2 separate regions of the Homo sapiens genome follow, and region 2 is linked to region 1. Evidence: fine-mapped expression QTL. A gene starts in region 1. The other region holds a variant in brackets. All regions are shown on one strand. Distances are between the middles of the regions.

Region 1 (5,390 bases):
ACCTCAGCCTCTGGAGTAGCTAGGACCACAGGTGCGCATCACCACACTCGGCCAATTTTTTGTATTTTTGGCAGATATAGATTTTCTTTTCCTCTTTTTTTTTTTTTTTTTGATGGAGTCTCCTTCTGTCACCCAGGCTGGAGTGCAGTAGCATGATCTCAGCTCACTGCAACATCTGCCTCCTGGGTTCAAGTGATTCTCCTGCCTCAGCCTCCCAAGTAGCTAGGATTACAGGCATGCACCACCACACCCAGCTAATTTTTGTATTTTTAGTAGCGACCAGTTTTGCCATGTTGCTGGGACTTGTCTTGAACTCCTGACCTCAAATGATCTGCCCGTCTTGGCCTCCCAAAGTGCTGGGATTACAGGCGTGAGCCGCCACGCCCGGCTGATACAGGTTTTTACCATGTTGCCCAGGCTATTCTGGAACTCCTGGACTCAAGTGATCCACCCACTTTGGCCTCTTAAAATGCTGGGATTACAGATGTGAGCCACCACACTCGGCCTTCCCTCTGAATTTTGAAGGCATTCGTGCATTATTTTCTAGCTTTGTTGTTTGGAACAACAATGCCATTCTATTTCCAAATCCATTCAGTGCAATATGTTGTTCTTTCTCTCTGGAGTCTTTTCGTATCTTTTCTTTATGTCTGATGTTCTCATATTACATGATAATGTCTTGCTTTTTGGGGATATTTTTATTCATTGAGTTTAGCATTTGATTGACCCGCTCAATACTGAGAGTCATCTCCTTTAGTTACGAGAGTCTTTCCTTTATTATTTCTTTAGTAATTTCCTCTCCTCTATTTTCTTTTTTAATGTTCTGAAACAATCCTAGTCCTTTGACTTTGTAGATGGTTATAATTTCTAACAAATTTTCTTAACTTTATTTTTCAAAACTTCCATAAAATTCGGGACATTTTTATAATGTCTATGTTCTTTTTCATGAATGTAAAATCTTTCTTTCTGAGAAAATATTAGCTTTTTAAAAAGTTTTTGAAGTTCTCTTTAGCTCTCCCTGTTATTTTTGTCTCTTTTTTATGTTAAATGCTTTCCTCAAATGTCTGATGATCCCTGGTTATCTGTTCATATCTGAAAGGGACACTAAAGACTCATTAACAGTTCTGCATGCATGGCTGAGGCTCATGCACTGATGAACTTATTGAAGGAGGGTTGAGTGGTTTTGTTGGGGAACACTCAAAACTATAAATATCTGAAAATGTTTTATTGGGACCACTTAGTTTATCCAGAGATTAAATCCTCCAGTTTCCTGGGATAGAATGGGGAAAGGATCCCTTGGTTCTGTGGGCATTCAGTGGGAAGATTCACTCTGAATCCCGTTATTTTCATCCCTGCTCATGTTAGTCTGGCTTCTCTGGGTCTAGAACCTCACCTGATATTTAGATTTTTCACTGATACCTTCAGTAGAAGCAATGTTGAATGTTTGAGGTTTGCTGGCTGTTTACAATCAATTAAGGATTTTTAAAAATCTAGAACATTTGTGAATTCTTATATTTTCTTCCTGGTACTAAGTAGGAGCTAGCCACAGGTAGGCCTCATCATATGGATACATTACCCAAACGGTCACAGGTCAAAGGACAATGTAGTGATTAACCATAAGCTTTGGAATCAGGAAGTTCTGGGCTTCAGTGTCTTCCTAAAACTTAAAAAAAAATTTAATTTTTTTATTAAACTTTTTTTTAAATAAAAAATTGAGATGGGGTTTCGCCATGTTGATCAGGCTGGTCTCAAACTCCTGGCCTCAAGCGATCCTCCCATCTCGGCCTCCCTAAGTGCTAGGATTACAGGTGTGAGCCACTGTGCCTGTCCTCACTTTTCTTTCTCCATTATTAGGGCAAGGAGGCCAGGGGACAGGGTGAGGGAGAACCTAGAATGGGAATGGAGGCAACTTTCAGTCTAACTATGCTTTGGCCCCATGAGGAATCTACATGTAAACACTTGCCAGTATGGAGAGTCAATTGCACTTTGTGACAGGCTGTACAGCAGTTGGGACAACTGTGGCACATGCACAGGTTATACAGGCATATTTGCACCAGCACATGCATGGATGCTTGTGCACATATAGGAAACCCACTATACACATGGACAAAGAAGCACAAGTATGTCCACGCCATCCCTCCACACACACACTAGTCACCAGGAGAAAAGGGCTCAGCACATTTCATCATGCATCGCCCATTGGGGGAAGCCATGTAGGACAGGAGAAAGGGAAGATTATGAGGCAAAAAGAGAAATGAAACTAAAGAGTCCCACCCTGTCAGCATTAACTGGGATATAAGAGGTTGGGCTTTGGATAGATAGACAGACTCCTGGGTCCGGTCAACCGTCAAAATGTCCAAAGAACCTCTCATTCTCTGGCTGATGATTGAGTTTTGGTGGCTTTACCTGAGTAAGTGTTCTGAAACCTTCTATGTAGAAGTTTCCAGAGGACTTGCTATTGTGTGATGGATTTCCATGCACTGGTTTGGGCCTCAGTGAAGCAGAAGCTCACTTCATTTCTGCATCCCTCCCCTCTCCCTACCAGGCTTCCTTCTGTGGAGGGTCTCTGTCCTGCCTTGTTACACAGAGGTTTATCCAGAGACTGGTCTGGGGGTTTTAGGCTGGGGTAATTTGGGCTTATATTGGAAACAGCAACTGAAGAAGAGACACAGAAATAAGTGGTCAGATAAATTGGGGAAAAGAGATTTCCTCTATGGGTGTTATTCATATAATCAATAAGCCAGGAGAATTTGTTCTGGTGAGAATTGTGATAATTCTTATCATTCCCTCTGTTTTTAGAAGTGTTTGCTTTTTGTTTTGTTTTGCTGGGGTGAGGCTTTATGTAAGGTTTCTTTTCTGCACGTTGTTTTTGGGTTTTGGATGATGCAAGTGTACACACTCAGTTTTGGCCAGTGAAGTTCTTTGCATCCTGGTGGTATAGAGCCAAGTGTTCTGGCCTGAGCTGCAGCTGCGTCTCGGGCACTAACTGTTGACACTGGGAATATGTCTAAATTGCTCTGGCTCTCCCATATTTGAAATGAGAGACCTGGCTTTTTAAATGACCAGTTGTCACAATCTGTGCTTCTAGGACAAGATAATATTGAATGGCCCTTGCAGTTTTACAAAAGTCCATTTTTTTTTTAAATGGATACAAAATAACTATACATATTTATGGGCTACATATGTGTTATTTTGATATATACATACAATGTACAATGATCGAATCAGGGTAGTTGGGATATTCATTTCTTGAAACATTTAAATTTCTTTGTGCTGAGAACATTTCAAATGTTCTCTTCTAGTTATTTTGAAATACACAAGAAATTATTAATAACAATAGGCACCCCACTATGCTATCAAACACTAGGACTTATTCCTTCTATTTAATTGTATTTTTTCCCTTTTTCCTCATGTTCTAACTAACTGTATTTTTGTACCCATTAACCTGCCTTTCTTCATACCCCTTTTCCCCTATCCTTTGTAGACTCCAGTGACTATCATTCTATTCTCCACTTTCATGAGATCAACTTTTTTAGCTCTCATGTATGAGTGGGAACATGCAATATTTGTCTTTCTGTGCCTAGCTTAACTTAACACAATATTAATAAACTCTGTTTCCATCCATGTTGTTGCAAATGACTGAGTTTCATTCTTTTTTTATGGCTGAATATTCTACTGTGTTTATATACCACATTTTCTTTTTTTTTTTCTTTCTTTTTTTTTTTTTTTTTTTTTTTTTTTTGAGACGGAGTCTCGCTCTTTTGCCTAGGCCGGACTGCAGTGGCACTATCTCTATCTCGGCTCACTGCAAGCTCTGCCTCCTGGGTCCACGCCATTCTCCTGCCTCAGCCTCCCAAGTAGCTGGGACTATGGGCGCCTGCCACCATGCCTGGCTAATTTTTGTATTTTTAGTAGAGACGGGGTTTCACCATATTGGTCAGGCTGGTCTTGAACTCCTGACCTCAGGCGATCCACTCACCTCGGCCTCCCAAAGTGCTGGGCTTATAGGCGTGAGTCACCGCACCTGGCCATATACCACATTTTCTTTATCCATTCATCCATTGATGGACACGTAGGTTGCTTCTATATCTTGGCTATCGTGCATAGTGCTGTAATAAACATGGGAGAGTAAATATCTCTTTAATTGATTTCCTTTCTTTGGGATATATCCCCAGTAGTGGGATTGTTGGATCATATGGTAATTCTATTTTTAGTTTTTTAAGGAATCACCATACTGTTTCCCATAATGGCTGTAGTAATTTACATTCCCACCAACAGCGTACGAGAGTTCCTCTTTCTTTGCGTCCTCGCCAGCAATGCTTGCTTTTTGTCTTTTTGATAGTAGCCATTTTATCAGAAATGAAGTGATACCTCATTGTGGTTTGGATTTGCATTTCCCCAGTGATTAGCAATGTTAAACATTTTTTCTTCTACCTCTTGGCTCTTTGTATGTGCAGAAACCTTTCCAACATGGTGCATGAGAAAACACCCATATTTGAAGGAAAACAAATGTGTTTCATCACCTCTCAAACTTGTACTATTCTCTCTGCCTTTCTTTCCTCCGTAGTGCCATGCATCCTCAGGTCCCTACTTAATTCAGGCTTTTCCTGGCTACCTTGTAGCCTCTGGAATAGTTCAGGTGTTTCTGCTATGAGTTCGCATCCTCCTTGGAGTTCCTGCATCTGTAAACTTGTCACTCTATAGCAAATGCTCACTCATTTGACTATCTTCCTAGGTACTCTGCAGGCCCCATGAGGGCAGCCCAGGTCTGCTTTGTGGCTTGTTATATTCCAGCACCTAGTTCCACCCTTGATACATTATAGGCACTGAAGAAACAATCTACAGGCCAGGGGTGGTGGCTCATGCCTATAATCCTGGCATTTTGGGAGGCCGAGGTTGGTGGATCACCCGAGGTCAGGAATTTGTGACCAGCCTGGCCAACATGGTGAAACCCCGTCTCTACTAAAAATATAAAAATTAGCCAGGCGTGGTGACATGTGCCTGTAATCCCAGCTACTCAGGAGGCTGAGGCAGGAGAATCGCTTGAACTAGAGAGGCAGAGGTTGCAGTGAGCCGAGATTGCACCACTGCACTCCAGCCTGGGTGACAGAGTGAGACTCTTTCTGAAAAAAAAAAAAAAAAAAAGGGGGAAGAAAAAAACAATCTACAGAATGAAAGCAGTCCCTGTCACTTTCACACTTATATTTTGGGTTTGGTATGGGTTTGTTTGGATGTAAGAAAGCTACCATCTGCCTTTTCATCAATTTTTTTTTACTGTCTTTGTCTTATCCTGGAAACTTGAAGTTTGGAAGGTTTTGTTAGGTTGAAAGTTGCAGGGGTCTATGTCTACATGTCCTGCTACTAGCAAGACACTGGTTGAGGGGAATTTTCTA
Region 2 (5,390 bases), 39 kb before region 1:
GACCAGCTTGGCCAATATGGTGAAACCCTGTCTCTGCTAAAAATACAAAAATTAGCCAGGTGTGGTGACACACACCTGTAATCCCAGCTACTTGGGAGGCTAAGGCAGGAGAATTGCTTGAACCTGGGAGGTGGAGGTTACAGTGAGCCAAGATTGCACCACTGCACTCCAGCCTGGGCAACAAGAGTGAAACTCTGTCTAAAAAAAAAACAAGGCTTGCAGCTTTCACTTGGACCTCTTGGAACACTTGTTCTTAAGATGCTCTCTGTTTGATGCTCTTATTCAGAACCAAACTGTCATAATGAAAGCAGCCCAAGCCAGATGAAGAGGCTGGGTAGATACCGTAGTTGACAGCCCAGCTGAGTTTTCTACCAAAAGCCAGCATCAACTGCAAGCCATGGGAGGGAGTCATCTTGGATGTCTAGCCCAGTCAAGCCTTCAGATGATTACAGTCCAAGCCATCATCTGATAGCAACTGCTTAAGTGACCCCAAATGAGAATGCTCCAGAAACATAAGAGATAATAATATAATGTGGTTTTAAGCCACTAAGTTTTAATGTGTTTTGCATGTAGCAATAGGTAACTGAAATGACCCCTTAGAGTGAAAAGAGCCCTTATGCCATTTAAAAAATTCATTTTATAAAAATTTTTTGTGGAGACAGGATCTTACATGTTGCCTAGGCTTGTCTCAAACTCCTGACCTCCCAAAGTGTTGGGATTACAGATGTGAGCTACCATGCCCAGCCTCACTGATGCCATTTTTAATAATAGCCAACAAGAGGAAGGCTTGATGCACTATAGGGCCATTATTCTTCCATTTCTGATAAAGCAATATCCTTAAAATGTGAATTATATTACACAATCCATCTATACATAGTCCTTAGAATGAACCCCCAGTTCTTCCTTTGGCCTGTGTCATATGGCTTTTTTCTGGTAGTTATTCAAATATGGTCCACACCATCTTTCTCTCACTCACTGCTTTCTGGTCATACCGGCTTTCTTTATATGTCTAGGAAATTCCAAGTTATTCCTCAACTTAGTGTCTTTGCACATTCTGTTTCCTCTATCTGCAAGGCTATGCCTTTGGCTCATTTCATGCCATCTCTCTCTCTCTACCTATAAAGGAAGAGATTTATTATACGGTATTGGCTTATGCAATTATGGAGGCTGAGAAGTCCCTTGGTTTGCTGTTCTACAAGCTGAAGACATAGAAAAACTGGTAGGGTAGTTCAAAGGCCTGAAAGACAGAGGGCTGATGGTGTAGATGATAGTCTGGGTCTAAAGGCCTGCAAACCAGATTCACTGAGAACAGAGAAGATTGATGTTCCAGTTCAAGTGGTCAGGCAGAGTTAATTTCCTCCATCTTTTTGTTCTATTCAGGTCCTCACAGACTGGAGGGTGTCCACTCATATTGGGGAGGGCCAGCTGCTTTACTCAGTCCACCAATTCAAATGCTAATCTTGTCTGGAAATATTCTCACAGATAGACCTAGAAATAATGTTTAGCTATGTAGGCATCCTGTGACCAAGTCAAGTTGATACATAAAATTCACCGTCATAGTCATTTTCTCAGAAAGACTGTTTCTGATCAATATTTCTGCCAACCTTTTTTTTTTTAATCTGCAGCTTTGTTTCTTTTATTCATAGCATCTGTTACAACATTAGTTGATTACTTGTTTTCTCTTTCTCCACCTCTAGATGCTAAGCTCCATGAAGACAGCAGGTCATGATAGTTCTAAAGGGTGGAACATCTCAGGTATGTGAGAGGGGAAGGAAAATAGCTCAAGGAAATAAATAGCCTTAGAGGCCCAGGAAGGTATCCAGTAGTGCCTCACTGCAAAAATGTGAGCTTAAGCCGGAGAAGTCTCAGGCTTCTTAGGAACCCACAGGTCAGCCATTTCTGACTTTACACCATTGCCCATGTAATAATGTCAGCCTTAACTTGTAACTGGGTAGAGGGAAAAGTGGGACTCAAAGTGAATTTTTTTCTATTCATGGAAGAAAGACTGTACAAAACCAGAGAAGTTTTAGCTTTCAAAAATATATTTTATAAAACTTACAAAGGAAATACATGTTTATTGTACAAAATTTAAAAAGTACACAAAGTATTAAATAAGAGGTGAAATAATTATATCAATATATAAGTATAGTTCTGAGGAGATTATACAACAACTTTGCTAGTAAAATATTCCTATCATCCAGATTCCATAGGTGAAGAAATTGAGGCATTCAGAAATGTACTTGTGTTTAAATAACTTGAAAGTGGTGGAAATAGGCTGTGGATATATTCATTTTGATTCTAGAGCTGTGCTGTTCACTAAGCCAGCCAGTAGCCATATATGGCTATTTTAAAATTAAAATTAATTAAAATGGAATTAAATTAAAAATTCAGTCCTCAGTTGCATTAGCCACTTTTAAAGTGTGCAATAAACACAGATGGCTAGGAGCTACCCTGTTGAACAACATAGTGTTGAACCTTTCCATCATCACACATTTTTTTTTTTTTTGTAAACAAGTATTCTTAATTTTTATTTTGCTTGATCATTCTTTCACACCATCTTCTACAATGGTTTAACTAATTTACATTCCCACCAATAGTGTAAGAGCATTCCTATTTCTCTACAACCTCACCAGCATCTGTTGTTTTTTGACTTTTTAATAATGGCCATTCTGACTGGCATGAGATGATATCTCATTGTGGTTTTGATTTGCATTTCTCTAATGATCAGTAATGTTGAGCTTTCTTTTCATGTGTTTGTTGCCTGCATGAATGTCTTCTTTTGAGATATGTCTGTTCATGTCCTTTGCCCACTTTTTAATGGGTTTGTCTTTTTCTTGTAAATTTGTTTGAGTTCCTTGTAGATTCTGGATATTAGAC[A/C]TTTGTCGGATGGATAAATTGCAAAGGTTTTCGGACAGGTGCAGTAGCTCAAGCCTGTAATCCTAGCACTTTGGGAGGCTGAGGTGGGCAGATCACCTGAGGTCAGGAGTTTGAGACCAGCCTGGCCAACATGGTGAAACCCTGTCTCCACAAAAATACTGGGCATGATGGCAGATGCCTGTAATCCCAGCTACTCAGGAGGCTGAGGTGGGAGAATCGCTTGAACCTGAGAGGCAGAGGTTGCAGTGAGCTGAGATTGTGCCATTGCTATCCAGCCTGGGTGACAGAGTGAGACTCTGTCTCAAAAAAAAAAAAAAAAAAAAAAAGGGCAAAGATTTTCTCCCACTCTGTAGGTTGCCTGTTCACTTTGATGATAGTTTCTTTAGCTGTGCAGAAGCTCTTTAGTTTAATTAGATCCCATTCATCAATTTTGGCTTTTGTTGCAATTGCTTTTGGCAATTTTATCATGAAATCTTTGCCCATGCCTATGTCCTGAATGGTATTGCCTAGATTTTCTTCTAGGATTTTTATAGTTTTGGGTTTTACATTTAAGTCTTTAATCCATCTTGAGTTAATTTTTGTATAAGGTGTGAGGAAGGGGTCCAGTTTCAATTTTCTGCAAATGGATAGCCAGTTGTCCCAGCACCACTTATTAGATAGGGAGTTCTTTCTCCAATGCTTGTTTTTGTCAGGTTTGTCAAAGATCTGATGGTTGTAGATGTGTGATCTTATTTCTGAGTTCTCTATTCTGTTCCATTTGTCTGTGTGTCTGTTTCTGTACCAGTACCGTGCAGTTTTGGTTATTGTAGCTTTACAGTATAGTTTGAAATTCAGTTGAGTGATGACTCCGGCTTTGTTCTTTTTGGTTGGGATTGTCTTGGCTATACAGACTCCTTTCTGGATCCATATGAATTTTAAAATAGTTTTTTCTAATTCTGCACCACAAAATGTTTTATTGTATAGTGCTGCTATAGAGACTACTTCTAATCACATCTAGAAAATGTGTTTTCTTCAATCTCATTTCTTATTCCATAGTGAAGTGATTACTGCAATTCATGGTTGCCTGTGTATCCCTTCCACAATTTTTCCTAAGCAAATACAAATATAAATACCCATATACATTTTGTTTTGTGTTGTGCTTTTAAAAATAAGATCAACCTTACTTCTGCAAAAATGGCCATAATTAAAAAATAAATAATAACAGATGTTGGCTTGGAGGTGGTGAAAAGAGAACACTTCTACACTGCTGGTGGGAATATAAACTAGTACAACCACTATGGAAAACAGTGTGGAGATTCCACAGAGAACTAAAAGTAGAACTACCATTTGATCCAACAACCCCACCACTGGGTATCTACCCAGAGGAAAATAAGTCATTATATGAAAAAGACACTTGCACAGCATGTTTATAGTACACTGTTCACAATTGCAAATATATGGAACCAGTCTTAAATGCTCATCAACCAACAAGTTAAAGAAAATGTGTTTTATATATATACCATGGAATACTACTCAGCTATAAAAAAGAACAAAATAATGGCATTCACAGCAACCATTATTCTAAGTCAAGTAACTCAGGAATGGAAAACCAAACATCATGGGTTCTCACTTATAAGTGGGAACTAAGCTATGAAGATGCAAAGGCATAAGAATGATATAATGAACTCTGGGGACTTGGGGGGAGAAGTGGGAGGAGGGTGAGGAATAAAAGACTACACATTGGGTACAGTGTACACTGTTCAGGTGATGAGTGCACCAAAATCTCAGGAATCAGCACAAAAGAACCTTTCCATGTAACCAAACACCACCTGTTCTCCCAAAACGATTGAAATAAAATTTTAAAAGAAGACCAAATTATGCATATTGTTCTGTAACTTGTTTTGTTACTTAACGATTGATTTTGGATCTACCTGTGCATTAGGTTTTTAAGAAACTACCAAACAATTTTCCAGAATGGTGGCACCATTTATATTCCCATTAGCAAGTATGGGTGATTTGGTGTTTCTGGACACTTGTCAGCATTTGATATTGTTACTGTTTTTAAATTTAGCCAATCTGATGGATGTGTCATGTTACCTAATTGCAGTTTTAACTTGCAAATTTTTGTATTTTATTTTAATTTAATTTAATTTAATTTTATTTTATTTTATTTTATTTTATTTTTGTAGATACAGTTTCTCACTATGTTGTCCAGGCTGGAGTACAGTGATGCAATCTCGCCTCACTGCAACCTCCACCTCCAGGGCTCAAGCCATCCTCCTGTCTCACCTTCCCAAGTAGCTGGGACTATAGGTGCATGTCACCACACCCAGCTAATTTTTTTGTATTTTTTTGTAGAGATGGGGTTTTGCCACGTTGCCCAGCTGGTCTCAAACTCCTGGGCTCAAGCAATCTGCCCACCTCTGCCTCCCAAGGTGTTGGAGTTAGAGGTGTGAGCCACCGCTCCCAGCCTTAACTTGCATTTTTCTAATGGCTAACAATGGTAAGTATCTTTCCACACTCTCATTTGCCAC

Evidence for each region. PIP is the estimated chance that this variant, and not a neighbour inherited with it, causes the effect.
Region 2: its variant is the best candidate, but not a certain one, in a credible set for the expression of TIMD4 in whole blood (INTERVAL, PIP 0.51).

Annotation. Positions count from the first base shown.
Region 1 is chr5:156,960,158-156,965,547 of GRCh38, reverse strand. TIMD4 (T cell immunoglobulin and mucin domain containing 4) reads left to right here and starts at 2,322. Exons shown (of 9, transcript NM_138379.3): 1 at 2,322-2,407. The coding sequence starts at 2,350.
Region 2 is chr5:156,999,215-157,004,604 of GRCh38, reverse strand. No RefSeq gene overlaps it. Among named protein-coding and RNA genes, the nearest start is that of TIMD4, 39 kb to the right of the region's middle. The variant A/C (reference allele first, on the strand shown) is at 2,878.